2 separate regions of the Homo sapiens genome follow, and region 2 is linked to region 1. The links come from fine-mapping of genetic effects on gene expression. A gene starts in region 1. The other region holds a variant in brackets. All regions are shown on one strand. Distances are from middle to middle. Region 1 holds the start of STAU2 (staufen double-stranded RNA binding protein 2). Region 2 overlaps STAU2 (staufen double-stranded RNA binding protein 2).

The links.
Region 2: its variant is fine-mapped to the expression of STAU2 in whole blood (TOPMed, PIP above 0.99).

What each region holds. Positions count from the first base shown.
Region 1 is chr8:73,741,577-73,751,350 of GRCh38, reverse strand. It overlaps STAU2 (staufen double-stranded RNA binding protein 2), which reads left to right and starts at 4,511. Exons shown (of 15, transcript NM_001164380.2): 1 at 4,511-4,568. RefSeq lists silencers at 4,009-4,298, 4,379-4,468, 4,759-4,938, 5,049-5,108.
Region 2 is chr8:73,629,476-73,639,249 of GRCh38, reverse strand. The region is part of intron 6 of STAU2 (staufen double-stranded RNA binding protein 2); the gene reads left to right. Among named protein-coding and RNA genes, the nearest start is that of STAU2, 110 kb to the left of the region's middle. The variant C/T (reference allele first, on the strand shown) is at 5,004.

The DNA of each region.
Region 1 (9,774 bases):
GGCCCATAGTGGGTATTCAGTAAATGTTGGTCAAATTTGCTAATCCCTTCATTTGACAAGCATTTAGTGAGCACTGTGCTAAGTCCCAGAGAAACAAAGAAGAGAAAGTCATTGTTGTTGCCTTCAAGGAGCTTAAGATATAGTAGAAGAAACACATAAATAGTGTGTAGTGATAAAAATAAATTCAGGGCCATGCAGTGGCTCATTCCTGTAATGCCAGCACTTTGGGAGGCCGAGGAGGGCAGATAACTTGAGGCCCGGAGTTCAAGACCAGTCTGGGCAACATGGCAAAACAAACTGTCTCTACCAAAAATACAAAAATTAGCCAAGCCTGATGGCACATGCCTGTAATCCCAGCTACTCAGAAGGCTGAGGCATGAGAATCGCTTGCACCCTGCAGGCAGAGGTTGCAGTGAACCAAGATTGTACCACTGTACTCTAACCTGGGCGAGAGCAAGAACTCTGTCTCAAAAAAAGAATTTAAAAAAATTCAGATATCATCAATAAAGGAGGGTAACTTCTATGGTGGGTGCTGGGGGCTAGATGAATTTTACAGGAAAATAAATGTCAAGAAAAGGGCATCATAATATAAGATATAATATAAGAAAGAAGAGGACATAGAAGGAAACTGGAGTTTGTGATTCTGGAATCTGTCCCATTCAAACTGCTCAAATCCGATAATGGTGAATTTGAAAGCATTATCTTTTTCCTGATGCTTGAACATTTCACTGCAATGGTGACTGGTAAAAATGTGTTGATAAAACAGACGCTTTTTAAAAAAAAATTTAATTTTAAATTTATTTTTAATTAAATGGAGGTGGGGTCTCACTTTACTGCCCACGCTGGTTTCAAACCCCTGGTTTCAAGAGATCCTCCCTCTTTGGCTTTTCAAAGTGCTGGGATTACAGGCATGAGCCACTGCGCCTGGCCTCATTTGCTTTAATCAGCTGCCTATTAATAGGCCCACTGTTCTTTATTTATTTATATTTTTTGATACAGGGTCTTTCTTTGTGGCCCTGGCTGGAGTGCAGTAGTGTGATCTCAGCTCACTCCAACCTCTGCCTCCCAGGCTCAAGTGATCCTCCCACCTCAGCCTCCTGAGTAGCTGGGACTACAAGCACGCACCACCACGCCCAGGTAGTTTTTCTAATTTTAGTAGAGATGGGGTTTTTGCCATTTTGCCCAGGCTGGTCTCGAACTCCTGACTTCAGGTGATACGCTAGCCTCCCAAAGTGCTGGGATTATAGACGTGAGCCACCACAGCCGGCTGGCCCACCGCTCTTTAAATATTCATTATTTTCAACTCCTATACAAATATTTTATTTTAAAGTAAATCCTAAAATGATTGTAGAGTGATGTGTGGATTTCCATGTCACTCAGGTGATTTCATGTACTGATACTATATACCTTGAGCAACTGAAAGTGCTGATTCAATTAAAAAACAATTTCCTTTCTGATAATTGTGACTTAGAAAAATTCATTCTATTTGGGGTTTACCAATGACTGAAAATCAGTTATGAGGAACAGTTACGGGAGGGATAAAGTTTTCAATTAACTTTAAGGATCTGAATCAAAGAGAATGAAATCTGACCACCCCAGAGTTCTTTCCAAAAGTATAAACTCATCCATTTATACCAAAGGATTTACCGTCCACCTACTTGCTGTTGGATGCTGGGACTACAGATATGCATGAGACACAGAGCCTGCCCTTCAACAATGCAATGTTTGGTAGATACAGACAGGCTAAAAAAAAAAATTCTAACATACCTACAATATCAGAGAAGAGAGGTACAAGAGAAGAGCACTCGCCTGCTCAGAGGAGTGTTAGAGAATGCCTCTCAAGGAGGTGATTTTTTTTCTTTTTTTTCTTGAGATGGAGTCTTGCTCTGCTGCCCAGGCTAGAGTGCAGTGGCTCGAACTCAGCTCACTGCAACCTCTGCCTCCCGAGTTCAAGCAATTCTCCTGCCTCAGCCTCCCAAGTAGCTGGGATTACAGGTGTGTGCCACCACGCCCAGCTAATTTTTGTATTTTTAGTAGAGATGGAGTTTCACCATGTTGGCCAGGCTGGTCTCAAACTCGTGACCTCGTGGTCTGCCCGCTTCGGCCTCCCGAAGTGCTGAGGTTACAGGTGTGAGCCACCACACCCGGCCAAGAAGGTGATTTTTGAATGCCGTGAAAGATTATTTGTTCACCAGGCGAGAGAAGGGTAGCCTGAAGGGAGAGAGAATAGCCTATGGAAAGACACAGAGGTAGGCAGCTTGACCCTTGGTATGGCTGGTGGGAAAGTAAGGTATTCATTCAAAATATTCAACAATTTCTGGTCAACTTCTTTCAGTCAATGATGGACAGGTGGACTGCATATACAACGGTGGTCCCATAAGATTATACAGTTCTTTAAGCCGGGCGCCTGCAATCCCAGCACTTTGGGAGGCCGAGGTGGTGGGGAGGGGCGGGGGGGGGGGGGGCCGGCGGGGAATCACTTGAGGTCAAGAGTTCGAGACCAGCGTGGCCAACATGGTCAAACCCCGTCTCTACTAAAAATACAAAAATTAGCTGGACGTGGTGGCATGTGCCTGTAATCCCAGCTACCAGGGAGGCTGAGGCAGGAAAATTGCTTGAACTCGGGAGGTGGAGGTTGCAGTGAGCTGAGATTGTGCTACTGCATTTCAGCCTGGGTGACAGAGCGAGACTTCGTCTCAAAAAAAAAAAAGATTATATAGTTCTTTTACTGTAGGTTTTCTGTTTAGGTACAAATACCCTTGTGTTGCAAAATTGCCTACAGTATTAGTACAGTAACACACTGTACAGGTTTGCAGCCTAGGCGCAATAGCTATATACCATATAGCCAAAGCAAGTAGTTGGCTAGACTACCTAGGTTTGCGTAAGAACACGCTATGATGTGCGCAAAACAACAAAAATCGCTTAATGACACGTTCCTCAGAACATATCCTTGTGGCTAGGTAAGGCATGACTGTATTAGAATGCTGACTGGGTGCGTAAGCCGCTAGAAGGAGCACAGCAAATTTAGGGAGGATGCAACATGTTAAATCCGAGGGAACTGGCAGAGGTGAAAAGGGGGGAAAGGAGCATAGGAAAGAGTTCTGGGAGGAAAAATATAGCTGTAGCTAACATTGTACCAGGAGAGGTACTACATACCCGGTCCTATTTAAAGGGCTTCATATGTATTGTCACATTTAAATACGAACTATCTATCACATGTAGTCTCCTCTTGATGCACAGGATAAGTAACATGCCCGTGGTCTCCTCACCAGTTAGCAAGCGGATATCCAGCCTTGGTTATCTGACTCTGGCGCCCTTGCGGTTAACCAGGACACACACTACCTTCCCAGGTGCAGACATGAGATTGGTTTTAGATGATGACTGAAATCACCGGCCTGGGAGACATTTCTCAGTCAGAGAAGTGACACTGGGAAGAAACCCTAGAAATAACGTTGCAAACGAGTAAGTTTGTGAAAACACACTAATAGTTCTATTTCGAAATTTCTTTGTCAGATTATTTTTGGTGCCGGTTACTAAACGAAGTGTTCAGTTTCATTGAGCTTAACTGGGTTGAAGTTATCTAGACAAAAGTAATCCACATCAAAACCAGGACGAATTAAGACGTAATTTCTGTTTTCTGGCACTCTTGCCTCATAAATCTAGGATTCAGGGCATTGTTTTCAATGGTTCTCATTTTTGGCTCCAAGGATTCTTTTTCATGTGACTAATATTTTCGGTAGAAGAGGAGGTCTGGCCACGCCGCGGGTCTTGGCGAGCAGGTGATCACGGATCCCTGGTGTTTGCTGGGCGAGACGGTGAAGCAACCTCCTCCCCGCCCCCTCCCCCGTCTAGAAAGGTGCAAGATCCGCTAAACCGTGCGTTGCACAGCGGCGGCCGGAGCAGACGCGGGATGGTCGCGCGTCCCCTGCACAGCACAGAGGGGCAGCCGGAGAGCCTGGGAAAGGTACGAGCGGGGAATCAGAGCACAGGGTGCGGACCAGAAAGAGCAGACGGTCAGTCGGGCGGGGAAGGAAGTTGCCGAGTTGCAGGTGTGGAAGGGGCTGCCCCAGGCCCACCCTTGGCAGACGAGGGGGCGGGGAGTCGCGCCGGGGACGAGGAGACTGCGGACCGGGCGCGCTCCTTGCGCAGTCGCTCGCCCGCGTGCCCAAGCCCCCCGGGAATGGCCCTCGCCCAGGGGCCCAGCTCGCCGCCGCTAGCCCCGCAGAGCCTGCAGCTGCTGGGGCCCGGCAGCCGCCAGGGGGCGGGAGCTGCGTCGCGAACAATGGCCGCGCTTGGTCGCGGGCCGGCGGGAGGCGGAGTGGAGGTAGAGCCGGTGCCGGGCGCGCGCGCCGGCCGGGCGTGCTGGGGCGCGGGAGCGGCTGCGCAGGCGGGGGCGCGCGGCGCGAGCGCGGGAGGGCGCGGCGGGAGCGCCGGGGAGGCGGGCGGAGGCGGGCGGAGGCGGGGGGCGGGGAGCCCGAGGGGTGGAAGCCGGCGGCGGCCGAGCGGGGTCAGTTCTCTGTAGTGTTTGCCAATGTTGGAGCCGTCTGCAAAGTGTCCCCGGCAAGAAGGTAAATACCCTCATCGGGGGCGTCCGGGAGACCCCGACTTCCGCGCCGCCGGCGAAGAAGGCAGAGGGCGCTGGGGAGCCCTGCAGTTCCGCAGCACGGGGAACCCGGAGAAAAGCAGCCCCCTTCGCGGCCTCCCCTCCCCCGCGCCTTCCCTCCCACATCGGGCTCTCGGGGCAGCAGCGGGGAGGGGAGACCGGCGGGGGAGGGAGGACAGGGAGGCGAAGGAATTGGGGTGGGGGGTGCGTGTGTGGTGGAGGGGGTGGGACGACACAGGTGTCCTGAGGGGAGGAGCCGGGAGGAAGGCGAGGAGGCCGGGCCAAGTGGGGGTGCGGAGGTCGGGGAGACAGGAACGCGGCTGCGGGCGCGGGAGGCTGGGGTTCTAGGGGGCCGGGGTGGTAGCGGCCGGAAGAGAGGACGGCGAGTGCAGCCACGGTGTGGCTGCGAGGGAGAGGGAGCGCCTAGAGTAGGGCAGGGGAGGGCGGCCCGGGGAGGGTCTGCGGGAAATGGGCCTGGGGGCGCTGGAGGCGGAGCGGCGGGGCCGGGGCGCGCCGGAGGGTGGCGGCGGCAGCTATTTCTGTAGAATGGGCTAGTGGTAAAGACGTAACTTGCCGAAATGGGGAGGGTAGGTGGGGCCGAGGGGACAAAATATATCCTATGACAGGCAAGTTCTGCTGTGGCTGTTACGAACTCCTACCGTGATGGCTCGGCTTAAAGGGGTAGTTGGCGGTAGTGACCTTGCCGGGGTGAAGGGAGTTGGGCGAGGAGACAAAGCTCAGTTACGGAATCCGCTGTGTGAGAGCAGGAACTCTAGTCTCTTCGGGGTCGAGCCGGGGGCTGTGGCTTGGGGGCTGGGGGTGCTCCGCAGAGGCCATTGAGAAGCACGCCACTCTGGGATTCTTAGGGAGGCGGTGGGGGTAATGGCCGTGGGATTCTGGAAGTCTTTGGAAATGTGTGTAGAATTTTGCATTTGTGAATAATTTTCTTTGGTAAGGGTCCATATTTGCTGTGATGTCCCCTTACCCCCATCCCCACTCCAAAGGGTTAAGAACTGCTTGAGCAGATAGAGAGGGACCATTCAATTAGGGTAGACCTGGGAATTTACCAAAGGATTTTAAAGTGGGTGGATCCTGCAGAAAGAAAGGCTAGAGATGATCCTTTAAAGATATTTTACTGTTAATTGAAAACGTTTTTTATTTAATGTTTGCTTTCACAATTTTGGTGAACTTTTGCTGAGCATTACTTGGCTTCTGATGCATCCTGTGTTTCAGACCAGCATCGTGAATACTTGAAATCAAAATTGTGATGGACAGGCAGGGTGATAGTAACCTTGGAGGAGAAAAGATTTCAACATTTCTCCAGGATATTTCTTCCCCGTCCTTGCTTTCTTTAGATGATTCAAGTACACTGTTGTGAACTCAGCTGCGGTGGAAAAATCTTATTTAATAAAACTACCAAAACCAAGACTTACTCTCCATCTCTGTTTTGTAGTATGGCCAGATTTTCATTGTTCAGTTTGTATCTTACTGCAAACAAGAGATATCACATAACACTTTAATTGTAGATTGCTGCATTTTGCAGCAGGCCTGTATTAAATTTGCGAAGCAGTTATGCCAAACTATCTGGTGTGTTTGTGTTTTCCTGCTATGGTTTCAAGTCAAGTCACTATTGCCATATTTTATTATATGGTAGGCTAGTCTGAAATTTATTCCTAAGTGATGATAAGTTGGTAGGATATGGTACATACTTGCTCACAAATTACTGCATTTTTCCCCATAAAAACCAGTGTTTTGTATTTGTAAGAATGTTGCTGTGTAATCCAAGTATGTATTGTTAATTTCAAATAAAATGCTGTGTAATTTTTAAATTTTAACTTTATTTGGAAATAATTTCAAGCTTACAGACAAATGGCAAGAATAAGAATAATACAAAGAAAATCTTTGTAACCTTTATTCAGATTCACCTGTTAACATTTTATGTATTTATTATTTGCTCTCTATCACACACAAAATATTTTTCCCCTGGACCATTTAAGGGTAAGTTACATACATTGTGATCCTTAACTCCTAAATACTTGAGCTTGGAAAACCATGCAAATTTTACATTTTAGCTTACTTGGCTTGTCTGGAATGAAGTGCTAGGAAGAGTGGCTTGGTTTGCTTTTCAACAAATAGTATGAATATAAAAAAAATCTAAGATAGTCATCAAGCTTTTAAATATACAAACAATCCAGAAATCGAGGCAGAGCGGTTTTCCTGTTTAGGTTCTAGAAGATATGGTAGGTTTTTTTTTTTTTTTCCTTTGTGCCTACCCTTCTCTTTATTCCTATTATTATCTTGTTTTGTGCACGTTCAGTGCTGGGAATCTGATCATTTATAGGTACAGATCATAATAAAGAGGGAAAACTCTAGATACTGCAAAATTGAATTCTCTTAGACTGCATAGTTTGAGACACGCACAGTATGATTATTCACATATAGATATATTTGTGCCTCTTATAGGTACACAAAATACTAGATGTCTAGAATCAGTAATAATTATCATTTTTATTTATGTGTGCATCGTTTGATTTTAAATAATCCTCCCCAAGTTCTATATAGGAGCTTTGCCATTATGTTGTCCTAGAGGTCAAGCCCTTGACTTTGTTCCAGGAAAAATTATAAGAAGGCAAATCTTTTATTTTTCACCAAGCTGATCATAGAAAATAAAAAAAATTGGCCAGGTGGGGTGGCTCATGCCTGTAATCCCAGCACTTTGGGAGGCCGAGGCAGGTGGATCAGGAGGTCAGGAGTTCGAGACCAGCCTGGCCAACATGGTGAAACCCCGTCTCTACTAAAAATACAAAAATTAGCTGGGTGTGGTGGTGCGCGCCTGTAATCCCAGCTACTCGGGAGGCTGAGGCAGGAGAATCGCTTGAACCCGGGAGGCAGAGGTTGCAGTGAGCTGAGATGGCGCCATTGCACTCCAGCCTGGGTGACAGAGTGAGACTCAGTCTCAAAAAAAAAAAAAAATGTCCGGGCATGGTGGCTCATGCTTGTAATCCCAGCACTTTGGGAGGCCGAGGTGGGTGAATCACCTGAGGGTTGGGGGTTCGAGACCAGCCTGACGAACATGGAGAAACCCCGTCTCTACTAAAAATGTAAAATTAGCCGGCCGTGGTGGCGCATGCCTGTAATCGCAGCTACTCAGGAGGCTGAGGCAGGAGAATCATTTGAAACCAGGAGGCGGATCTTGCGGTGAGCCGACATGGTGCCCATTGCACTCCAGCCTGGGCAGCAAGAGTGGAACTCCGTCTCAAAAAAAAAAAAAAAAAAAAAAATTAAAAAGAAGGCAAGTCTTTTTTAATTTGGTGTATAGTGAAGAAAAGACGACTTTGGGCCAGAATGAACCGTTCTAAACCTAGCAATGTGACTGTAGGCAAATAACCCAACCTCTAGAAAAATGGAGATAATGCCTACATCCCAAGATGATGAGGATTAAATGAGTTGATGTAAAAATGGCAAAATGTGGCACCTAGCGTATACAATTGGTGTCTGAAAAATGTTAGTTTCCTTTTTTTTTTTTCTGGCCTGTGTTATTTAGAGTTTTCCACTAGAATAGTTTGTGGCGTAAGACTTCTGTTTTCCTTACATAAAAGCAGTGTTTTTGGGTACCCACTTTGAAAAATCAAAATGAAAAACATTTTAAAAAGCTCTTTAAAGGACCGTATATCTTTTTTAGAGTAATAAGCATTGAATTGATAGTTTTGTAGCAGTTTGTAGTCTAAGAGTAGAGATAGTAAATTTTTTTTGCTTTTCATGTTGTCAAATAAGACATTTAAGTGAGAATTGCCTATCAACTGTAGGATGGGTGCTGATATAAAAAATTTATACATATTTAGTAACAGTGCCGTTTTATAAAGCAGTTTAATTATTGGGGATTATATAGATTTCTGTGCAGCTTTTAATTTCTCAGATGGGCAAAATGTAATTCATAATTAAAGTACGACTTATATCAGCAGTACATTGCAGTTACAGGTTGGGCCATTCTTCATGAGCATCACGTCTTCCCCAGCCGTCTCCCTATAATCCTGCTTGTTTTCATTTAGTAGTTTGGAATCTAGAATTGCCTGTCTTCATATGCCTGACCAGATAGGGCATTTTTGGGACGCATGGATACATTTCTCTAAAAGCGCTTAGTTGTAATTGGAATCAACTGTAGCTGGAAACTTTTGTGATAGAGGAGGTGGATTTTTTTTTTAATTATTTTTATTTTTTGAGATGGAGTCTTACTCTGTCACCCAGGCTAGAGTGCAGTGGCGCAATCTCCACTCACTGCAGCCTCCGCCTCCTGGGTTCAAGCGATTCACCTGCCTCAGCCTCCTGAGTACCTGGACTACAGGTGCGTGCCTCCATGCCTGGCTAATTTTTGTATTTTTAGTAGAGACGATTTTGCCGTGTTCGCCAGGCTAGTCTCGAACTCCTGACCTCAGGTGATCCGTCCGCCTCAGACTCCAAAAGTGCTGGGATTACAGGCGTGAGCCACCACACCCAGCTGAGGAGGTGGATTTTATGAAACCAAAGGTAGTATAAAACTGCTCTGCATTTTATTGATATGTCTTGATATTTTAGCAAATTGTTTAAAATATGTGACAGTAGACTGGGCGTGTCTTTAAAGTAGAAACAGAGTCTTAAAGACGTGCCACTGTGAACATTCTGAATTGTCCATGGTATAATTACAAACTACAATTTTTAAATTGATGTAAATCTAAAATAACTGGTTTGCTTAAAAAAGTATAATTTTCAGAATGTTAGCCAATTACAGAGTGCTGTTATAGACATTAGTTTCATGTGTTTTAATTTCTACAGCTCTTTATATTGTAAAGAAAAGGCTTACAGAATATTTAAATCGTATGGTTAATTTTATGTTCATAAAGTTTTATTTTTTGTTACTTCATGGAATATCTTTTCCGTGTCAGAAGACTAGAAGTTTCGGGCCGGGCGTGGTGGCTCACGCCTGTAATCTTGGCACTTTGGGAGGCCGAGGCAGATGGATCACCCGAGGCCAGGAGTTCGAGACCAGCCTGGCCAACATGGTGAAACCCCGTCTCTACAAAAAATACAAAAATTAGCCAGGCATGGTGGTGTGTACCTGTATCCCCAGCTACTGGGGAGTCTGAGGCAGGAGAATCACTTGAGCCTGGTAGGTGGAGGTTGCAGTGAGCTGAGAT
Region 2 (9,774 bases), 110 kb after region 1:
AAATATACTATTAAAGAAAATTTTCAAGTGGATTTAGAAACTCGAACCAGTGAAATTAATGTATCATAGAAAAAATTTTCACTATTAAACTGTTAAATTGTTAAAAACAAGATACTACAATTTAAATAATATCTGTTGAACTTTAACAAGAATTTGTGGGTTTGTTTTTCTTTTTTGTATCAAAATAATGGTTATATTTCATATTAATCTTTAGCAACTAAAATATATTGTGGCATCTTCTTATGGAATCATTTGTATGTTCAACAAGCAGTTTTTTATGTTTTCAGAAATAGTTGATATCATTTCATATTAATCAACTATTTCTGTTGCAACACTGACTGGTATTGCTTACACCATATTAAAAAACACATTTTTTTAAATCAATTTTTTACTACTTGTACCAACTAAATCTAGTAAGAATATGACTCAGGTCATGTGATCATTTCATATTAATCTTTAGCAACTAAAATATATTGTGGCATCTTCTTATGGAATCATTTGTATGTTCAACAAGCAATTTTTTATGTTTTCAGAAATAGTTGATATCATTCAGTTTGGACAGTAATAACAGAGGTACCTAATGAGTTTTTAAAAACAGGTAAGCATGGGACAGTGACTGAATTTAAGAATGTCTTGGAAAATATTAAGTCTAGAACTTTAGTGGGTGGAATTTTATTAGACTGCCAGTGAAATTGCAATTATATTTGAAGTTACTCTGATGGACTCTTTTTAAAAAAAAAAAAAAAAAAGAATATTTCAAATGACCTGGGTTATATTCTTACTAGATTTAGTTGGTACAACTAGTAAAAAATTGATTTAAAAAAATAAGTGTTTTTTAATATGGTGTAAGCAATACACAGTCACTGTTGGGATAGAAATAGCTATTATTTGAAAAAGGGAGAGGAGTCAGTTTCCTATAGTCATATAGGTTTGTAAAATGCTGGATCAAGGAAAATTTAAACGTTTTCTTATTGTAGAAGTTCTCAGAGCCTTTACTTTTTTATTTTTGTGGGTATTTAATTTTTTGTATTTATTTTATACAGTATAAAATATAAAAAATTCAAATATTAATGTAAATACTATGCCACCCCTGCATTCCAGTTACCCAATTTTGCCCCTGCCCCTGCCAGTTTCATGTATTATCCTTTCAGGATATTCTCTGGATATGTATATGTATATGTATTTACTTTAAGAAAGTATCATTCTGTAATAGTATTCCGAATCTGTTTTTTTTTCCTTTGAAAAATACCTTAAACAGCATTCCATGTCAGTATGTAAGAAGCTGCATTATTTTTTCTAAACTGATTATGAAAATTTTAGAAACCCTGCAACCATATAGGTCTATTTAACTCCCACCCCATATATAGATGTCATTTGTATTACATTTATATAGATCATAACTTCCACAATGTTATGATTTTTTGCTTTAGTCTATATCTTAAAGAAATTAAGAGAAAAAGGTCTTGAATTTATTTGCCCACATATCTATCATTTCCCTTTTTTTGTTTTGTTTTTGTGTTTGTGTTTGTTTTTGTTTTTGTTTTCTCTGAAGATCCAGATTTCTGTCTGGCTTTACTTCTCTTCAGTTTGAACACCCTTTAGTATTTCCTGTAGTGCAGGTCTTCTGGCAATGATTTCTCTGAATTTTTGTTTACTGAAAACATCTTTATTTTGCCTTCAGTTTTGAAGATATTTTCATTGAATATAGAATTCGGAGTTGACAGTTTTTCTTTTTTTTCTTTTCTTTTTTTTTTTTTTTTTTTTTTTTTTTTACTTTCAGCACTTTATAAAGACTTTAAAGATGTTGTTCCACTTGTCTCCTGGCCTCAGATTTTTTCTCTTGAGAAGTCATCCATCATTTGAATTGTTGCTCCCCATAAATAATATGTCTTTTTAGCTTTTAGCAGTTAAACTATAACATATCTTGTGTGGTTTTCTTTATATTAATCTAGTTCACTGAGCTTCTTGAATATGTAAATATGCCTTTTACCAAAGGAAATTTTTGGGTCTTAGGTCTTTTAATATTTTTCTGTTCCCCCCTTTTCCTCCTCTCCTTCTGTTAGACCTTTTTTTTAATTTTAATTATTTTTAATTTTGTCTAACAGGTCCCTAAGCTTCAGTTCATTTTTTTAACTTCTTTTTTTCTAATAGTTAGGTAGTATAATTTCTGTTGATTAATCTTAATTCCTTGGTCATCTCCTTTTGGCTATTATGTCTATCCAGTGAATTTTAAATTTGAATATCATATTCTAGAATTTGTTTGGCTACTTTTTATAATTACTGTTCTCTGCTGAAATTCTCCATACATTTATTCATTAAAAGCATATTTTCTTTGATCTCTTTGAACATAGTATAACTTTGCTGTTAGTTCCTTTTTTTTTTTTTTTGAATACAGAGTCTCCTCTGTCACCCAGGCTGGAGTGCGGTGGTGTGATCTTGGCTCACTGTAACCTCTGCCTCCCAGGTTCAAGCGATTCTCATGCCTCAGCCTCCTGAGTAGCTGGGATTACAGCTGTGTGCCACCACACTCGGCTAATTCTTATATTTTTAGTAGAGACAGGATTTTGCCATGTTGGTGAGGCTGGTCTCGAACTCATAGCCTCAAGTGACCCACCCACCCCAGCCTACCAAAGTGCTGGGATTACAGGCATGAGCCACCACACCCGGCCCTTTGCTGCTAATTCTAACATCTCGGTCATTTCAGGGTAGTTTTCTGCTTACAGTTTTTTTTCTCTTGAGAATGGATCATTTTTTCCTGTTTCATATGTTGAATAATTTTGGATTGTATTCTGGACATTGTAAAATTATATGTTGTAGAACCTAGATTCTATTATGTTCCTGTGAAGTGTGTGTATGTGTGTGTGTGTATGTTTTAGACAGGCCCTCACTCTGTCACCCAGGCTGGAGTGCAGTGGTGCAATCTTGGCTCACTGCAACCTCCACCTCCCAGGCTCAGGTGATCCCCCCACCTCCGCCTCCTGAGTAGCTAGGACTATAGGCACATGCTGCCATGCCCAGCTAATTTTTTGTAGATATGGGGTTTTGTTGTCTTATCTTTATAGATATGGGGTTTTGCTATGTTGCCCAGCCTGGTCTCTAACTCCTGGGTTCAAGCAATCTTCCCGCCTTGGCCTCCCAAAGGTGTTAGGATTATAGGCGTGAGCCACTATGCCTGGCCAAAAAAATTTTTTAGGCAGGCAGTTAGTTGGCTGGGGTCTCAACAAAACTTTTCTGCATTGGGTGGCAGGCACCTCAAATTCTAATCTCGTAGCTAAATTTCTTTGAATTGGTTCCAGGGGTGTGTGTGTGTGTGTGTGTGTGTGTGTGTGTGTGTGTGTGTGGTTCAGGGGTCAGATAGAGATTCGAACAGTTTTATACATAGAATATGAAGCTCCCTCTCTCTCCAGATTATTTATTTATTTATTTAGACGGAGCCTTACTCTGTTGCCCAAGCTGGAGTGCAGTGGCGCGGTCTCGGCTCACTGCAACCTCTGCCTCCTGGGTTCAAGCAATTCTTCTGCCTCAGCCTCCCGAGTAGCTGGGATTACAGTTGCCTGCCACCATGCCTGGCTAATTTTTAAATTTTTAATAGAGATGGGGTTTCACCATATTGGCCAGGCTGGTCTCAAACTCCTGACCTCATGATCCACCCACCTTGGCCTCCAAAAGTGCTGGGATTACAGGCATGAGCCACCGCCCTCGGCCTCAGATTTTTATTTCTAATATTTCCTCCTCCATATTCCAGGGGCTTTGGAATATGAGCCCTTATCGCTGGGTCTTCAAACCAGTATGACTATTTTCCAGTGGCATTTTAGCTATTTCACATGGAATAGATGGGCTTGCCTTCAAATTCAAGCTATTAAAAGAAAAAAAAGGGAGAGAAATGCATCCTATGCTGTTCTTTTTTTCCAGATGTTAACTTGCCTCCAGTGTCCACCTGTTTCATTGACTTTTTGGTACCTTTAGATGATTGTTTTTTTACAGTTTGTTCAGAATTTATTGTTTCCTGCAGGAGAATCAGTTCAGTGAGAGTTTACTTGGCCATACTGGAAATAGGGTTACTGCTTTATTTATTTAAGAACGGTTTAGTATCCCACTGTGTGATTTCTCTGTAATTTATTTAACTTCTTAGTCCTGTATTCATGGACATTTAGTTGTTTTGAATCTTCTGATGTTATCAGTGTTGCAGAATGTATCTTTATACATACACGTGGTGAGACATTCTTATGGGTACTTGGAGTACATCAACAGACATTTCTGTCCTCATGAAGTGTACATTCTAGTTGGGGGAGATAGAAAATAAAAAATAAATACAAGTACATTGTATAGTAGATTAGAAAGTGAAAAGTGCTTATATAGGAAGAATAGAGCCCTGTTTGAGTAAAAGGATGGGAATCACAATTTGAATTAGGTCTTGCTGAGAGGTGAGATTTGAGCGAAGACTTTAAGAAGGTGAGAGAGTGAGCCTTGAGGATGTCTGAGGGAGAAGCAGGAGATCAGCCATTGTAAAGGCCCTAACGTGGAGGCTTATATGGTGAGTTTGAGGAGCAGAAAGGAGACTAGTGTGGCTAGAGAAGAGTAAGTGAAGAGGTGAGTGGTAGAAGAAGCCAGAGATGTGACTGGGAGCCTGATTTATGTAAGGCCTTGTAGGCCATTGTAAAGATTCTGGCTACTATGAATGAAATGCAAAACCAATGTAGGTTTTTTTATTTTTTGTTTTTTTGAGACGGTGTCTCACTCTGTTGCCAGGCTGGAGTGCAGTGGCGCAATCTCAGCTTACTATGTCTTCTGCCTCCCAGGTTCAAATGATTCTCCTGCCTCAGCCTCCCAAGGAGCTGGGATTACAGGTGTGTGCCACCACACCCAGCTAATTTTTGTATTTTTAGTGGAGATGGGGTTTCACCATGTTGACCAGGATGGTCTCAATCTCTTGACCTCGTGATCCGCCCACCCCGGCCAACGCAGGTTTTGAGCAAAAAATAAATAAATAAATAAATAAAAAC[C/T]GTTTTGCTGATTAAGAGAGCAGTTGGGAGGTTATTACAATAATCTAGACTAGAGACGAGGCTGTTTTGAATGTTTTGGAGTTTTTTACCAATATAATTAGGTGAAGAATGATACCTCTTTGGCATTTTAATTTGCATTTCTTTGATTATGAATGAGGTCAAACATCTTCTCATATGCATAAAATCATTTATATTTCCTTTTCTGTGGTCTGTAAGTGTATAACCTGTGCTAGTTTTTGTGCTGATTCAGTAGTCTTTTTCTTTTTTTTGAGATGGAGTCTCGCTTTGTCACTCAGGCTGGAGTTCCGTGGCATGATCTCGGCTCACTGCAACTTCTGTCTCTTGGGATCAAGCAGTTCTGCCTCAGCCTCCTGAGTAGCTGGGATTACAGGCACCCACCACCACGCCTGGCTAATTTTTGTATTTTTAGTAGAAATGGGGTTTCACCATGTTGTCCAGACTGGTCTTGAACTCCTGGCCTCAGGTGATCCAGCCGCCTCGGCCTCCCAAAGTGTTGGGATTACAAGCATGAGCCACCGTGCCTGGCCTCAGTGGTCTTTTTCTTACTGACTTGTCCTCAGTATTTTTTAAAGCTCCTCATGTACTTCCGGTATATAGGCAAAGATGAAACCACTGATCTAGCCCATCCTCATCTTGTAGCCGCCTCAAGGTCAGATCATGCCCAATGTTAAGAGGTACTTGGAGTCTATAGTCACAAAGTACATTCACTCCCAGCACTTCCCCATTCAGATCTCACATGCATCCTTTCACTTTGAACTTGTCCTTCTGCTAGTCCTGATTGCTTTACTCCCACATAGCTGAGAACCTGGCCCTTGCTGGTCCTGTCTCTCCCTTGCAATCATTCACTTTTAAGTTGAGAGGAATATAGTAATGTAGTATTGAGGTTAGGGGGTGCTGTGGAGCCACTCTATCTTCATTTGAAACCTGGTTCCGCCTAGGCCAAGCAACTTATCTTCTCTGTTTTTCAGTTTCCTCAACTGTAAAATGGAAATGATAACAATATGTATTTGCCTTATCAGGCTATTGTGAGGATTAGATGAGTTACTGCATGCTCAGTGCCGGCATATAGTAAACCACTCAGTAATTGTTAGCTATAACCTCTCCTTCATTTAACAGATATGTAGTGGACTCCTTTTAAGTGCTAGGTATCATGCTGGATACCATACACTAGGGCTGCAGTGAATACAACTCCCTTTTTCCCTGTGTATAAGCAGAAATTGTCCCTTTTGTAGCCTTCCTAGAACACTATTCCTGGAATAGCATGCGTATCATTTACTCTAAACTTTTCCCTTTGTTGAGGAACTATGAGGTCTAATACAGGGTTCTCAAGCATTTGCAGGGGAGTCTGGCCTTTCTAAATTTGAGAAGTAACAGGATATACTTATTTTGATTATATTAGAATTACATTTTGATTAAACAAGAGTCAAGTGACAACTAAGATTATAAGTTTAGCTCTTCATCTGTTTGATTTTATCATGAGTTCACCAGCTCTGAAGTGTTCAGTTTCTGGCCAGAATTTCTTATGCATAACTGGGGTGATTTTAGCTTCCTGAGAGATCACCATGGTCATACTCTTGTCAGTCTTGATCACTCTCCTGCTTTGGAGTTCTCAGTCTTATAAGCTCAGATTGTATTGCAGGTTTCTAAGTCTCATAAGAAGTGTCATCCTCTGCAAATAGGATTATATGGTCTTATTTGCAAACCCTTTTTTGTTCTCTTGAGTGACTTTTTCAGGATAACAAAGAGAACAATAAGTAAAATTTGCTTAAGATGCATTCTTTCTTTACTCCCATGTGGGTCTCAGATTTTCAGAATTCTCCATGTTGATTCCTCAAATACTTAAGGAACCTTATATACACTGGGTTTGAATGACTTATTGGTTTGCTTGACATCCTGTCTTTGTAAGAGTATGTGGCAGGCTTTCTCCAAATCAATAAAGGCAGCAAGACTTTTTTTTTTTTTAATGTACTGAACTTAATAGTTGTTTACATACTCATTTTAAAATGGAAATAAAACTATCTTATATTCTGATCTTTTCTAAATCCAAATCAGTTCTTTATGTCAGCTTTCAATCGTCTATATTTCTAATGCAATATAATACAATATTCTTAATATCATACCTACTGTCAGCAAGTATTTTTTGCCCTTGTTCTCTTGCTCGTGTTCGTGTGCTGTCTCTCTCTCCTTTCCTCCCTCTGTCTTCCTCCCTCCCTCCCTCCCTCTCCTCCCCCCTTCTTGCCTCGTCCTTATCCCTCCTCTCTCTCATTGAGATAAAAATGAGCAACTTCAGCTTTTTGGCTGTTCTCTTTTGCGGGTGGGTAAGATTTAGGATCGTAGGCAGTAATATTTGGACTATATATTTAATCATCTCAGGTATTATTCTCATCATGGCTTACTGCTTTTCTCAGTTTGAGTTTCCTGGGAGCTTATTATTCATTAATTTCCCAGGCTTTTTCTTGGCTTCAGTTACAAGGACCTTGACCAACTTGCTTTATTTATTTCCTTATGATTTGTTGACATTCTCATGTTCTCTGGTCAAGATGCACTTCTTTAAAGATAAATGAGTTACTAGACTCCTGTACTGTAATTGACTGACAGGTCACAGAACAGTCTATACAGAACAGTCTGTGTAGAACAGAACCCCAAACATGTAAATAAATGGCCTTTACAATTTTTAAAAATTGTAGTAATGTTATTTATTATTTTACATTAAATTCTTCCAGAGGCTTATTTAGTTGATTTCTACTGGTTTTTATAGTATCTGAATTTATCAGCTTATCTTCTGCACACTGCTTGGTGTTTTGAACTGCATTGGTGTTCATTTTTTATTCCTCTTTTTTTTTTTTTTAAGAGATGAGGTCTCACTCTATTGCCTAGGCTGGAGTGCAGTGGTACTCAAACCGCAAGGGTACATTTGATGCTGAGCTCACTGTACCCTTGAATTCCTGGGCTCAAGCAATGCTCCTGCCTCCGCTTCTGAGTAGCTGGAACTACAAGGGTGTACCACCATGCCCAGATAATTTTTTATGTTTTTTGTAGAGACAGTCTTGCTATTTTGGCAAGGCTGGTCTCAAACTCCTGGCCTCAAGTGATCCTCCTGCCTTGGCCTCCTAAAGTGCTGGGATTATAGGTGTGAGCCACTGTGCCTGGCCTAGATTGGCATTCTTGAGTGACCAATGAACCAAATGTCAGATCTCCTAGACAGGCATGAAGTGATGTTCTCCCGGGTATGGTACAAGCGCTAATGGGAAACTAGGGGTGCCACTGAGCGTGTGAAATGAAAGTCTAGAGATTCTGCCAGCATAACCACAGCTAAGGGTATTCTTTACAGGGAATAACCAAAAGCTTTAGAGATGCTGCAGCTTCATAGAAACATTGTAGAATATCAAAGAAGGCTGATGGATTAGTTGTCAAGAGGGAAAGAGGCCAACAACTATGATTTCCTGGGGCTACTATGTTCTGACACAGCATGTATCTTGCATAGGGTGACACAGCTAGTAAAGGGCTGAGCTGGCCCTCCAGCCCAGGAGTAATATGTCATCAAAGCTCGTGCTTTTTCTGCTATGCTACACTAACTCATGTCAACATCCACTCTTTGGGAATAGTAGGATGTCATGATGACTGAGTTATTTCAGAATATCTTCAAAAACTATTTTGTCCACAGAAAAGAATGTCTTTGGCCACACTTTGTATTTAGTGTGACTAAAATACACGTATCTGTATTGTGAACAGGAGTAAACCATCATAACCCGAGGCCAAAACTGTTAGCCTTTCAAAGCTCTAAGTATTACTTCAGCCTCTTCCTATGTGTGGTAGTCAGACTGGATATCAATATTGTCTCTACCAATATCATCTCCCTTATTTGTTGCTGTGTTTTACCTCAGGGTACATGGCAAAGATAAAGAGGATTGGATAGTTCTCAGCTTAGTGTGCATCCTGGAATAAGAGACAGTTCACACTGACTAACCGATGTAAAAGCATACCTTGCGTATCTGCAGCAATGCAGGAAAAGGAGAGCATAGGTAATTGAAATCCACATAGTGCATTCCCCAGAGGATTTGTGCAGGAAAAATTTTACAAATTAATTTAAAATGACTGAAAATTATAAATTGTTTAACGTTAATCCAAGGTACTTTAAAAGTGGAAGAGTTTTCTTAAAGTTCCAAGTACTGTACTATTTTAGCAAATGTTGCTTTTTTTACACTTTTAATATTAAACAGTATGAAAGGATCCAGGTAGTTGAGCAAAGTTCATTTTCCTATTTCTTTGAAAAGCATCTCTATAAAACATAAAAATAAAAAAAAATTAGCCAAGTGTGGTAGTGCACGCCTGTGGTTCCTGTTACTTGGGAGGATTGCTTGAGCCTTGAAAGTTGAGGCTGCAGTGAGGCATAATCGCACGACTACACTTCAGCCTGGGTGACAGAGGGAGACCCTGCCTCAAAAAAGAAAAGTGGGCTTCGAGTCAGACAGTGGTATTGGCTCCAGAGCATCTGTATAATTCCAGTAAATCATCTGGTTTGGATTGTAATGAACCCCCCAAAGTGTGTTACTCATAGCCGAAGAAATTTCTAAGACCCTTAAATGATTACTGTCAATAATCTGAGACTATTTGCATTGCCTAAAATCTGACAGGAGATCTCCATGTGGCAGTTCCAGCTAATAAATTATATTTCTACTTTTAGTTTCTACGAAGCTACTTTAAAACCCTGCAATTTTTTTAAAACATACGTGTCCTTCTAATGATTGTG